2 separate regions of the Homo sapiens genome follow, and region 2 is linked to region 1. Evidence: fine-mapped expression QTL. A gene starts in region 1. The other region holds a variant in brackets. All regions are shown on one strand. Distances are between the middles of the regions. Region 1 holds the start of RAB37 (RAB37, member RAS oncogene family). Region 2 overlaps CD300H (CD300H molecule (gene/pseudogene)).

Evidence for each region.
Region 2: its variant is fine-mapped to the expression of RAB37 in whole blood (INTERVAL, PIP 0.97).

The regions. Positions count from the first base shown.
Region 1 is chr17:74,735,022-74,740,235 of GRCh38, reverse strand. RAB37 (RAB37, member RAS oncogene family) reads right to left here and starts at 2,980. Exons shown (of 9, transcript NM_001006638.3): 1 at 2,871-2,980. The coding sequence starts at 2,963. It overlaps LOC124904057 (a long non-coding RNA gene), which reads left to right and starts at 2,897. Exons shown (of 3, transcript XR_007065905.1): 1 at 2,897-2,978. RefSeq lists enhancers at 1,178-1,900, 2,265-2,354, 2,625-3,348, 3,735-3,794 and silencers at 2,825-3,024, 3,225-3,274, 3,325-3,494.
Region 2 is chr17:74,561,819-74,567,032 of GRCh38, reverse strand. It overlaps CD300H (CD300H molecule (gene/pseudogene)), which reads left to right. Exons shown (of 4, transcript NM_001405511.1): 2 at 2,758-3,114; 3 at 4,136-4,199. The coding sequence starts at 2,790. Among named protein-coding and RNA genes, the nearest start is that of CD300H, 3.1 kb to the left of the region's middle. The variant A/C (reference allele first, on the strand shown) is at 2,192.

The sequences.
Region 1 (5,214 bases):
GAATATTGTTTGGGTTTTTTTTTTTGTGTCACAACATTTATTTGGAAGTTTCTTTCTTTCTTTCTTTCTTTTTTTTTTTGAGATGGAGTTTTGCTCTTGTTGCCCAGGCTGGAGTGCAATGGCGAGATCTTGGCTCACCACAACCTCCACCTCCCAGGTTTAAATGATTCTCCTGCCTCAGCCTCCTGAGTAGCTGGGATTATAGGCATGCACCACCTCGCCTGGCTAATTTTTTATTTTTAGTAGAGACGGGGTTTCTCCATGTTGGCCAGGCTGGTCTTGAACTCCCGACCTCAGGTGATCCGCCCGCCTCAGCCTCCCAAAGTGCTGGGATTACGGGCGTGAGCCACCGCGCCTGACTGGAAGTTTCTAATGACATTTTATGTTTATTAAAAGGTTGCATGAGGCCGGGTGCAGTAGCTCATGTGTGTAATCCTAGCATTTTGGGTGCCCAAGGTGGACGGATCACCTGAGGTTGGGAGTTTGAGACCAGCCTGACCAACAAGGTGAAACCCCATCTCTACTAAAAATACAAAAAACTAGCCAGGAGTGGTGGCACACGCCTGTAGTCCCAGTTACTTGGGAGGCGGAGACAGGAGAATAGCTTGAACCCAGGAGGTAGAGGTTGCAGTGAGCCGAGATTGCATCACTGAACTCCAGCCTCGGTGACAGAGCGACACTCTGTCTCAAAAAAAAAAAAAAAAAAAAAAGGTTGCATGAATTAGGGAAGGTTGAAATTTATACTGAAGTGGGGAGATGTGTAGTTGGAAGTTCTTTCAGCAGAAACCTCCCACATGGGACATGTGGCTGCAGATCGGCATCCCGGGGTTGCTGTGGGTAGTGCGGGCAGGAGTACCAAGGAGGTAACCTGTGGAGGGGGCGTGGCCCTCTCCTTTACTGTCTGGCTCTGCTCTGCTCATCTTCCCCAGGGACACGCAGGAATGGTGGAGAGGAGCACTTTGTCCCACTGTTCTCCAATCTTGGATAACAGGGGTCTAGATCCAATGCTGGAATTTCCCAGCTGCTGGTTAGGTGGCTTAATGGGTTAAGCAGGGACTAGGTTTGAATTATTTTTGAGGCTCTGAAATTGACAGTGGAGCCCAAAGGCATTCCTGTTGTGGGCATGGGGTACTGGCATTAGTTAACTCTGGTGGAGAGGCAGGGGTGGCTGAGCAGAAGGGGTATGAAGGATGGGTCTTGATTTGTAAATGGCCTACTGTGTGACTTTAGGAAGATTCCTTAACCTTTCTGTGGCATGGTTTCCATAGTGGGTAGAAGGAGGAGGGATAATGTCTTTGAGGTATTTCTAGAGTCTGTTAATGGCTAGGGCCCATCATCGTGGTGAATCACCTAAGACCCAGGGAAGAGTGGCCCAGGGTGGGAACTGTCTGCCTGTGGGCCACATCACCCCTAGTCTGGTCCAAGGAGCTCCTGCCAGGCTTTCTCAGAGGGTCCTGGACTCACTCCCCTGGGGCAGGCCCGGGGAGGCTGGGGACCAACTCTCCGGCCAATGCCGCTTGGCCAGGGAACAGATGAAGGGGTGGGGGATAGGAGCTTTCTGGAGCCTGCACTCCTCCCTGGCTCCTGGGTCCCAGCCCTGGAGCAGGAAGGAGGGAGGGAGGGCCAGTCTTTGTGTACTTTACAGATCACAGCTGCCTTGAGCAAACGATGCCAGCTACCCACCCAGCTCGGTGATTCCACCAAACACAAACAGCTGCCTAGCCTGGCCACCTCCTAGGCAAACAACCCAGCTGGTTTGCAGGGCAACAAGGTCAGGCAGTCCCCCTCAGCCTGGGGCCTGGCCAACAGCAGCTCCTCCTCTCCGAGGGTGCAGGGGCCCATTTCCTGCCACAAGCCCACACAGGACGCCTATCTCAACGGCTCTGGGCGGATGACTTGCAGGGTGGCTTCCCCCGAAACACTGGGGTGGAGGCTGAGGCTCCCAGCAAGGGTGAGCCCTGGTGTCGGGGAGGAAACCGAGGCCCAGAGAGAGGCAGGTCTCCTTCAAGGCCATGCAGCGGAATCCAGGACAGCCCTCACTCCATCCCCAACCCTGCAGAGGAAGAGTGGAAGCTCTAGGCTCCCTCAGCAGTTCTTTCAGTTTCTGGTACCCGCTCACTCCAAGGACACAGATGGAAGGCGACAGACCAGTCCACTGCTGTCCCTACCTGTTTCCATACAGGACACCCCTGTAGAGGGAGCAAGCCCCAGAGAGCAGCCCTGGAGCTCTCTCAAGTGCGGGATGCGAAAGACCAACCACTGAAATCTTTCTCAGGTTCGAAAAATTCCCAAGTGACCTGCAGGCCGGCTGGCAACATCCTTCTGGGAGGAGCGGCTTCCGACTGCAGGGAGGAAGGTGGGAGGCAGTGCCTCCAGCGGGTGGAATGGGAGGGGAGCAGCTGGGGGACATCAGGCCTTAAACCTGGATGTCAGATCTCAACTAAGAGCTTAGCTCGGAAAATGGCATTAACGCCAGTTCCTCTGCCAGCAGGGGACGTCCTCTCCGAGTCTCCGTTCGGTCCCCATCTCCCAGCCCTTCCCAGCCTGAGCCCCGAGAGTTGCGCGCTTAACCCTCACCAAGAAGCATGGGCTCCCGGGGGCTCATATTTGCCAGAGTGTGGCAGAAGAGAACTGAGTTGGGGCCGGCGGGGGGATCACTCAGTTTTTGCGATCTTCCGCGACCCGCCCCCACCAAGCCAGCAGAGACACCTAGAGCTTGGGACGGCCCCAGAGGCTGTGTCCTGACCCTCTCTCCCTCCCTCCTCTGGGAGACGCAGCTGCCTGGGGGAAGGGCTGAGTCCAACCCAGACGCAGCCAGGAAGGGGCTAGCGCCGAGGAGGGCGGGGGTCTCACGGAAGAGGCCCACCCACCTTGCCCGTGAGGTCGTAGCTCGGACTGCAGGGCGGGGAGCGCTCGGGGGCCTCGCCATCCCGGGTGGCAACGGCGCCTGGCGTGCCCGTCATGTCCCTGGACGAGAGGTGAGCAGTGCCGGCCCGCAGGCGAAGGAGAGCGCAGGAACGGCCCCACCCCCGCCCCGCCCACTCCTCCCCTCCCTCGACCGGGACCCCTCAGGCTCCTCCCTCCGTCCCGTCGCCCCCTCGACGACACCGGCTCGGACCTTGCTGTTCCCTGAGGGCACGCAGAGCCGCAGGGTCTGCGTGAAGGGGCGGGCAGCCTCCCTGAGCAACACCGGCTCGGCTCCGTGCGCTTCGGACATGAGCCACATCCAGCCCCGGGACCGGTCCCCTGTGGTCGCTTGCTTGCCCCTGGGGGAGCGGGCCGCGGGGACCCCGTCTGCTGCGGAAGAGTTCCCGTAGTCGCTGCGCACCGCGACAGCAGGCGGCGCCCGAGCCCCGGGCCGTGGGCTGTCCCCAGGTGGCGAGGCGGGGAGCTGGGGACCCCTGGGCTGCGCCTCCGCCGATGGCCCCGAGACACTTCCTCATCTGTTAAGTCACCCGGCCCGAGCTCATCTGAATATAGTTTTGTTTACCAACCCGTACTCGCCTTGCAGCACATGTACGCTGCGGTGTTTTGGGGCCTCTGCCTGGTGCGGGGACTTTGACCCTTTAGTATGGATCACCTCTCATTTCCCCCGGCCTGTTGGTTGTGCCCAGAATGTCCCACCAGGGGAGAGCTTTCGCAAGAGGGCTGCGCAGCACACATCTCCCAGTGGACCGCTCCTGAAGGCGGGGCCGGCCTTATTAACCCATGACACTCACCCTGGCCCCGAGGAGGAGCCAAATAAATTCATGAAGTCGTAGATCATTTTGAGCAGAGCTGCCAGGATATCCCAGGCACCCGGCAGCTCCTGGTGACAGAGAGTGGGGAGTGCAGCTGGGGTTGCCGGTAGCAGAGCTCAGGGGCTCTGTGGCCTGGGCCGACCTTTCAATTACCCCCATCTCCACATTCTATAAGCAGCTTCAAGTTACCAAGGAACAGGGCGGGTGCATTACAGCGGGACGGTTTGAGGGATGTGTAGGGAGGGGAGAGCTGGAGAGGGGTACCTGCACTTTTTTTTTTTTTCAGACAGAGTCTCACTCTGTCGCCCAGCCTGGAGTGCAGTGGTGCGATCTCGCCTCACTGCAACCTTTGCTTCCCGGGTTCAAGCTATACTCCCGCCTCAGTCTCCCGGAGTAGCTGGGATTACAGGTGCGCGACATCAGGCCCGGCTATTTTTTCTTTTTGTATTTTTAGTAGAGACGGGGTTTTGCCATGTTGGCCAAGCTGGTCTCAAATTCCTGACCTCAGGCGGTCCGCCCACCTCAGCCTCCCAAAGTGCTGGGATTACAGGCGTGAGCCACTGCGCCCGGCCTGCAATTCTTAACTTAGGTGTGGAGGTGAGGAGCAGGGGTAGACGTGGCTTATGGGCCACCATAGGCCTGTGGGGACTGACTTTGTACGCCAGCCTCCAGCCCTGTATTTTCTGACATCAGCTGGAGGTATTTTCTGTCAGCTGGGAGAAGCGCCCAGAGTGGGGACAGAGGTGATCTCCAGTAGAGTAAAGAGCTTGGGTTACCTCTTCTGGAGGTGAGCGTGCTATAACCTCAGCTGGGCATAGGGCGGGACTCAAACAGGGAGCCTCAGACTGGAGTGTGGAGGCTGCGCAGCACACTACAGAGGCGTGGTGTTGGTTGCTATTTGGATGCCAGAGGCTCTTGCTGCAAATAATGCCGAGGTTTGCTCAATGCCGTGGGCTCCCGGAGACGGAGTCTCACTCTGTCGCCCAGGCTGGAGTGCAGTGGCGGGATCTTGGCGCATTGCAGCCTCTGCCTCCCAGGTTCAAGCAATTCTCCTGCCTCAGCCTCTGGAGCAGCTGGGACTACAGGTGCACGCCACCACGCCTGGCTAATTTTTGTATTCTTAGTAGAGAACTTCACCATGTTGGACAGGCTGGTTTGGAACTGCTGACCTCAGGCGATACGCCTGCCTTGGCCTTCCAAATTGCTGGGATTACAAGCGTGAGCCACCGCACCTGGCCTGGTATGCGGTCTTTTCTCTCCCCTTCCCTCCCCTCCCCTCTCCTCCCTTCCTCCCTCCCTTCCTTCCTTCCTCCCTCCCTCCCTTCCTTCCTTCTTTCCTTCTTTCCTTTCTCTCTCTCTCTCTTCTTTCTTTCTTTGCCTGCCTGCCTTCCTTCCTTCCCCTCTCTTTTCCTTCCTTCTTTTCCCTTTCTTTCTCTTTCTTTCTTTCTTTCTTTCTTTCTTTCTTTCTTTCTTT
Region 2 (5,214 bases), 170 kb after region 1:
GGAATGCCACCACGATCCATCAGAGAGAAGGGGGAATAGGGGACAGAAAACCAGTACTTACTAGGCTAATCACTGTAATACATATCTTGTTTCCCACTATCTCATTTAATTCTTATTGCAATCCTGATGAAAACAAGAGACCGAAGCTCGCTCTTAGAGGTGCAAATAATTTAGATTAAACAGTTTATAAAAGGCACAGTCAAGGTCCAAACCTAAATACTTTTATTTCCAAGATCATTGCTCCTTCTCTAATTCAATGTCAATGTCTGCTGCGCCTCCTTGTAAAGCTTCACTTACATATCTGGAGGCATATGCTGCATCCCCACGTGGGAACCCTGGGTGTCCCCACAGGTCTGGGCTGGCCCCAGGGCTGCTACTTAATGGGCCCCCAGAAGGGTGAGACAGCTGGGAACCTGTGGTCAGCCCTGGTCCGAGAGTTTCCGTAAATGATGGTGGAGGGAGAAAGTCAGTTTCTTTGCAAGGCTGGGTAGGCGGGAAGCTCCGTAAAAGATGGTGGGGGTGGAGGTGGAGGAGGCTGCCCATGTTGGCTCAGAGTCAGGGTCTGGACTGAATATCCAAGGAGAGGGAGGCTCTGTGGTGGGATTCAGTGTGTGCCCCACAATGTTTTTGCTCCTTGTGGAATTAGCCCCAAATCATTAAGAGAGAAGTTTAAGGACCTGAAAGAGCAGGCTAACAGCGCCCCCAGAGCCTGAGCTGAGAGCAGCAGCGATTTCAGGAGAGGACTGGGTGTGCCCACCCCTTCCTTGCTCCTAAGCCTGTGCCTGGCAGGCAGTTAGCTCCCTGGGAAAGCTCGTGGACCTCAACACTGTGGACATTTGGGGCTGCGTTATTCTGTGTGTTGGGGGCTGTCCTGTGCATTGTAAGATGTTTAGAAGCATCCCTGGCCTCTACCCACCAGATGCCAGCAGCAATTCCCCACCCTAAGTTGGGACAACCAAAAATATCTGTAGTCATTACCAAATGTTCTCCCGCCCGCCCCCCTGCCCCCCCGCCCCCTCCCCGCCCCCCTGCCCCCCAGGTGAGAATCACTGCTTCAGAGAGGCAGACAGCTTTCTAATGCAGAATAGGTCAGTGGGCCACTCGAGCCTGCTTTCTGGGAAATAAAGTGAGAAAACGTGAGATAAGAAAATGAAGATGCAAAAGATAAAGTTTTCCTGTTTTTTTTTTGAGACAGAGTCTCACTCTGTCGCCCAGGCTGGAGTGCAGTGGTGCGATCTCGGCTCACTGCAACCTCCACCTCCTGGGTTCAAGTGATTCTCCTCCCTCAGCCTCCTGAGTAGCTGGATTACAGGCACCCACCACCACGCCCGGCTAATTTTTTGTATTTTCGATAGGGACAGGGTTTCATCGTGTTGGTTAGGCTGGTCTCAAACTCCTGACCTCAGGTGATCCACCTGCCTCGGCCTCCCAAAGTGCTGGGATTATCGGCATGAGCCACCACACCTGGCCAGATTTTTCTTTTAATTCACAATAAAAATATAGCAAAGCCTCTCCATCAGTGGATGGCAATATATTACCTAGATGGATGGGTGGGTAGATGAAAGATGGATGGATGGATAGATAGTAGATAGATAGATAGATAGATAGATAGATAGATAGATAGATAGTTGATAGGTAGACAGATTACATCCACAATTCCTTTTCAGGAGCTTGGTATTTTGCCAAAACCATTTCTCAATAGCCGTTTTGTCCTGAGTTAACCACCTCCCTGTCAAGAGCAGATGAGACAGCAGCTGTTTAGGACTGGTGAGGCCCCCGAGGCAGGAAGCAGAGAGTTGATGGGGCTGGGTCCCAATCATTTGGACCCGGAGCCTGCAGAGTGGGTGGAGGAATGAGAGAGGGGACTCGAAGAGGGAGAGTAATGTCGAAATATTGGAGGGGGCAGAGGACCTGGAGAAGAGGCCCAGGACATGCCAAGGCGGGTGGGTGCTGCAGAGAATTGGGGGTGGGAAGGAAGCTCTGATGGGTGTCCCTGTGGAGCGGAGCCCTGCAGATGTTAGGCAATGGCGAGTGTTGCTGCAGGATTCTGTCCCGGGGGAAAATTCCAGGCGTAAATGTCCTTGAATCACAAGAACAACTCCTTTCTACATGGCCCCTTGATATCCCCATGGGCAGCCCCCATATTCTCTGTGACCCAGACCTGGGAGCAGGAGGCCTCATCTATATGGGC[A/C]GGGATGGCAAGTATGAGGCCCACAGATGATTTGGGAAAGGGGCAGAACCAGAAGCCCCAGGCTTCCTCCTTGCCCTCCATACTGGGCTGCTTCTGGTTTTTCCTGGTTCTCAATATTATTTCCTTTCCTATTTCATCCATCCGTCCATCCATCCATCCATCCATCCATCCATCCATCCATCTATCTCTCCAGCCATCCATTTATTCAGAGTGTACTTAGTGGCTTCATTCAATCATTGGTGTTCGATGAGGACAGGTGTTTCTTCTCAGGACTGACACTTCTGGGGGACCCAGAACCTGTCTGAGGCCACCGAGGTCAAGCCTCTCCCCCTGATATTATAAGATGGCTGAGCACACCCAGGCTGGCATGGCCTCTGGAGTCTCAGGATCCCACACCGGGCATCTCCTTGGGTCTCCCCCTGCAAATAGCCCATAGCTCCCTGGTTCCCGACTCCTCCCTCCTCCAGCCTCAGGCAACACTGGGCGTGCAGAGGACCTGACACTCAAGGTTCCACTGGTCCAGACTCTTCCAGGTGAAGACGGGGAAACGGACTTGTGTTTTCCAGGCTGTCTGACTGTGAGTGGCCCCAGCACCGTGATGGGCGCCGTGGGGGAATCCCTGAGTGTTCAGTGTCGGTATGAAGAGAAATACAAGACGTTTAACAAATACTGGTGCAGACAACCATGCTTGCCAATTTGGCATGAAATGGTGGAGACCGGAGGGTCTGAGGGAGTGGTGAGGAGTGACCAAGTGATCATCACGGACCATCCTGGAGACCTCACCTTCACCGTGACCTTGGAGAACCTCACGGCAGACGATGCAGGAAAATACCGATGTGGGATTGCAACAATACTGCAGGAAGATGGCCTGTCTGGTTTCCTGCCCGATCCCTTCTTCCAGGTTCAAGTGCTGGTCTCATCGGGTAAGAGCCTCTTTTCTCAGGCATCTGAGGCCATCTCTGCAGAGCAGCCACAGAAATTTTGGCCCAGGAGAGAAGAACTGGGCCTAGTGTGGTGCATCAGAGACTCAGGACAGAGTATGTTGTGTGAATGTGTGTGGGAAATACATGTGTGTTTGAATGAGTGGGACAGTGTAAGTGTGTTTCAGTGTGTGACTGTGAGTTGTGTGCAAACATGTGAGAGTGAGTGCAGGTGTGAAGGTGTGTGTGAAAGCAGGTGTGTGTGAATGTGTGAGAGAGCAGGTGTGTGTGAGTGTGTGTGAGTGTGTGAGGGAGCAAGTGTGTGTGAGTGTGAGTGTGTGAGAGCAGGTGTGAGTGAGTGTGGGAGTGTGTGTGAGAGCAGGTGTGTGAGTGTGTGAGTGTGTGTGAGAGCAAGTGTGTGAGTGTGTGCAAGAGCTGGTGTGTGGGTGTGTGTGAGAGCAGGTGTGTGTGAGTGTGTGTGAGAGCAGGTGTGTGTGTGAGAGCAGGTGTGTGAGTGTGCATGTGAGAGTGTGTGTGAGAGCAGGCGTGTGTGAGTGAGTGGGCGTGTGAGTGTATTTGTGAAGTTGCGTGAGTGCACATGTGAGAGTGTGTGTGCAGGTGTGAGAGTGTGTGTGAGACAGAGAGTGTGTGCTGGAGGGTAGTGGTGGTGTGTGGATACACTGGCAAGGATGGGGGTTTTGGAACCTAAGCCTAACCTTCGGCATGTTGATTTTCAGCGAGATGGGGGACACCAACATGGGAGAAGGTGGTCATCCTCTGGTCTGGGTTTATAAAATGCCCACCCGGCCCCAGAGCAGGGCATCCATTGGGATGGGGTTGGGGGGATGCTCTGTTACTCCAGTCAGGCTTTGGTCTGCCTATTGGAAGACGATGGTCCTAGAACATCTGTCCAGCTGCCTCCTTGAGCGTCCTCTGCTTTATGAAGTCAGAACCATGCAGGTACCAGGTACTCAGCTGGGAAGAGTCAGGCGTAGGGCACTGAACCTCTGTTCTTTATCCTCAGCCTCCAGTACTGAGAACTCTGTGAAGACACCTGCATCTCCCACCAGGCCCAGCCAATGCCAAGGGTAAAATGCACGTGTCCCAGTGTCTTTTGCCATGTGTGCAGCTTCTTTCCTAGGGTGGGGCTTCCTAGACACAGGTTTCCTTGATTATTCACCCACTCAACATTTATTTATTTATTTATTTTTTGAGACAGAGTCTAGCTCTATCGCCGAGGCTGGACTGCAGTGGCACGATCTCGGCTCACTGCAAACTCCGCCTCCCGGGTTCACGCCATTCTCCTGCCTCAGCCTCCTGAGTAGCTGGGACTACAGGCGCCCGCCACTAGGCCCGGCTAATTTTTTTTTTTGTATTTTTAGTAGAGACGGGGGTTTCACCATGTTAGCCAGGATGGTCTCGATCTCCTGACCTCGTGATCTGCCCGCCTCGGCCTCCCAAAGTGCTGGGATTACAGGTGTGAGCCACCGTGCTCGGCCAACAGGTGTTTATTTGTTATGCGCCAGAAACTGATGGAGATTCTAGAGATGCAACAGTGAACAAAGGGGCAAGATTGTGCTCTTGAGGAAGTTGCAAATAGGTAGATTCAGGCAATGGCCAGATGGATAGATAGATAGACAGACAGACAGGTGGACAGACAGATAGATGGATAGATAGATAGATAGATAGATAGATAGATAGGTGGATAGATAGATAAACAGACAGATGATAGATATGATATGAAAGATGATAGAGATGGCTGGCTGGCTGACTGGAAAGACAGATGGAGATGATAGCTGGCAGAGAGAGATATGTAATAGAGACAGAGAGACGATAGATCAAGGAAATATGTCAACGAATGATAATTACTGTGGAGGAAAATAAAGCAGGTGTAAAGAGATAGGGTGCCAGAGTGTGTGGGAAGCTGGTGGGGCATGATTTGGGCTATCAAGGAAATACAAGATGTTCCACAGAAACAAAGAACAAAGGGACTGTCTTAGTTTGGGTTTCCCCCAAATCAGGTCCTGAGACAAGGACTTAGGAGCAATTTGTTTATTGAGAGGTAATCTCAAGAAGTACATTGAGAGAGCAGAAAGTGAGACC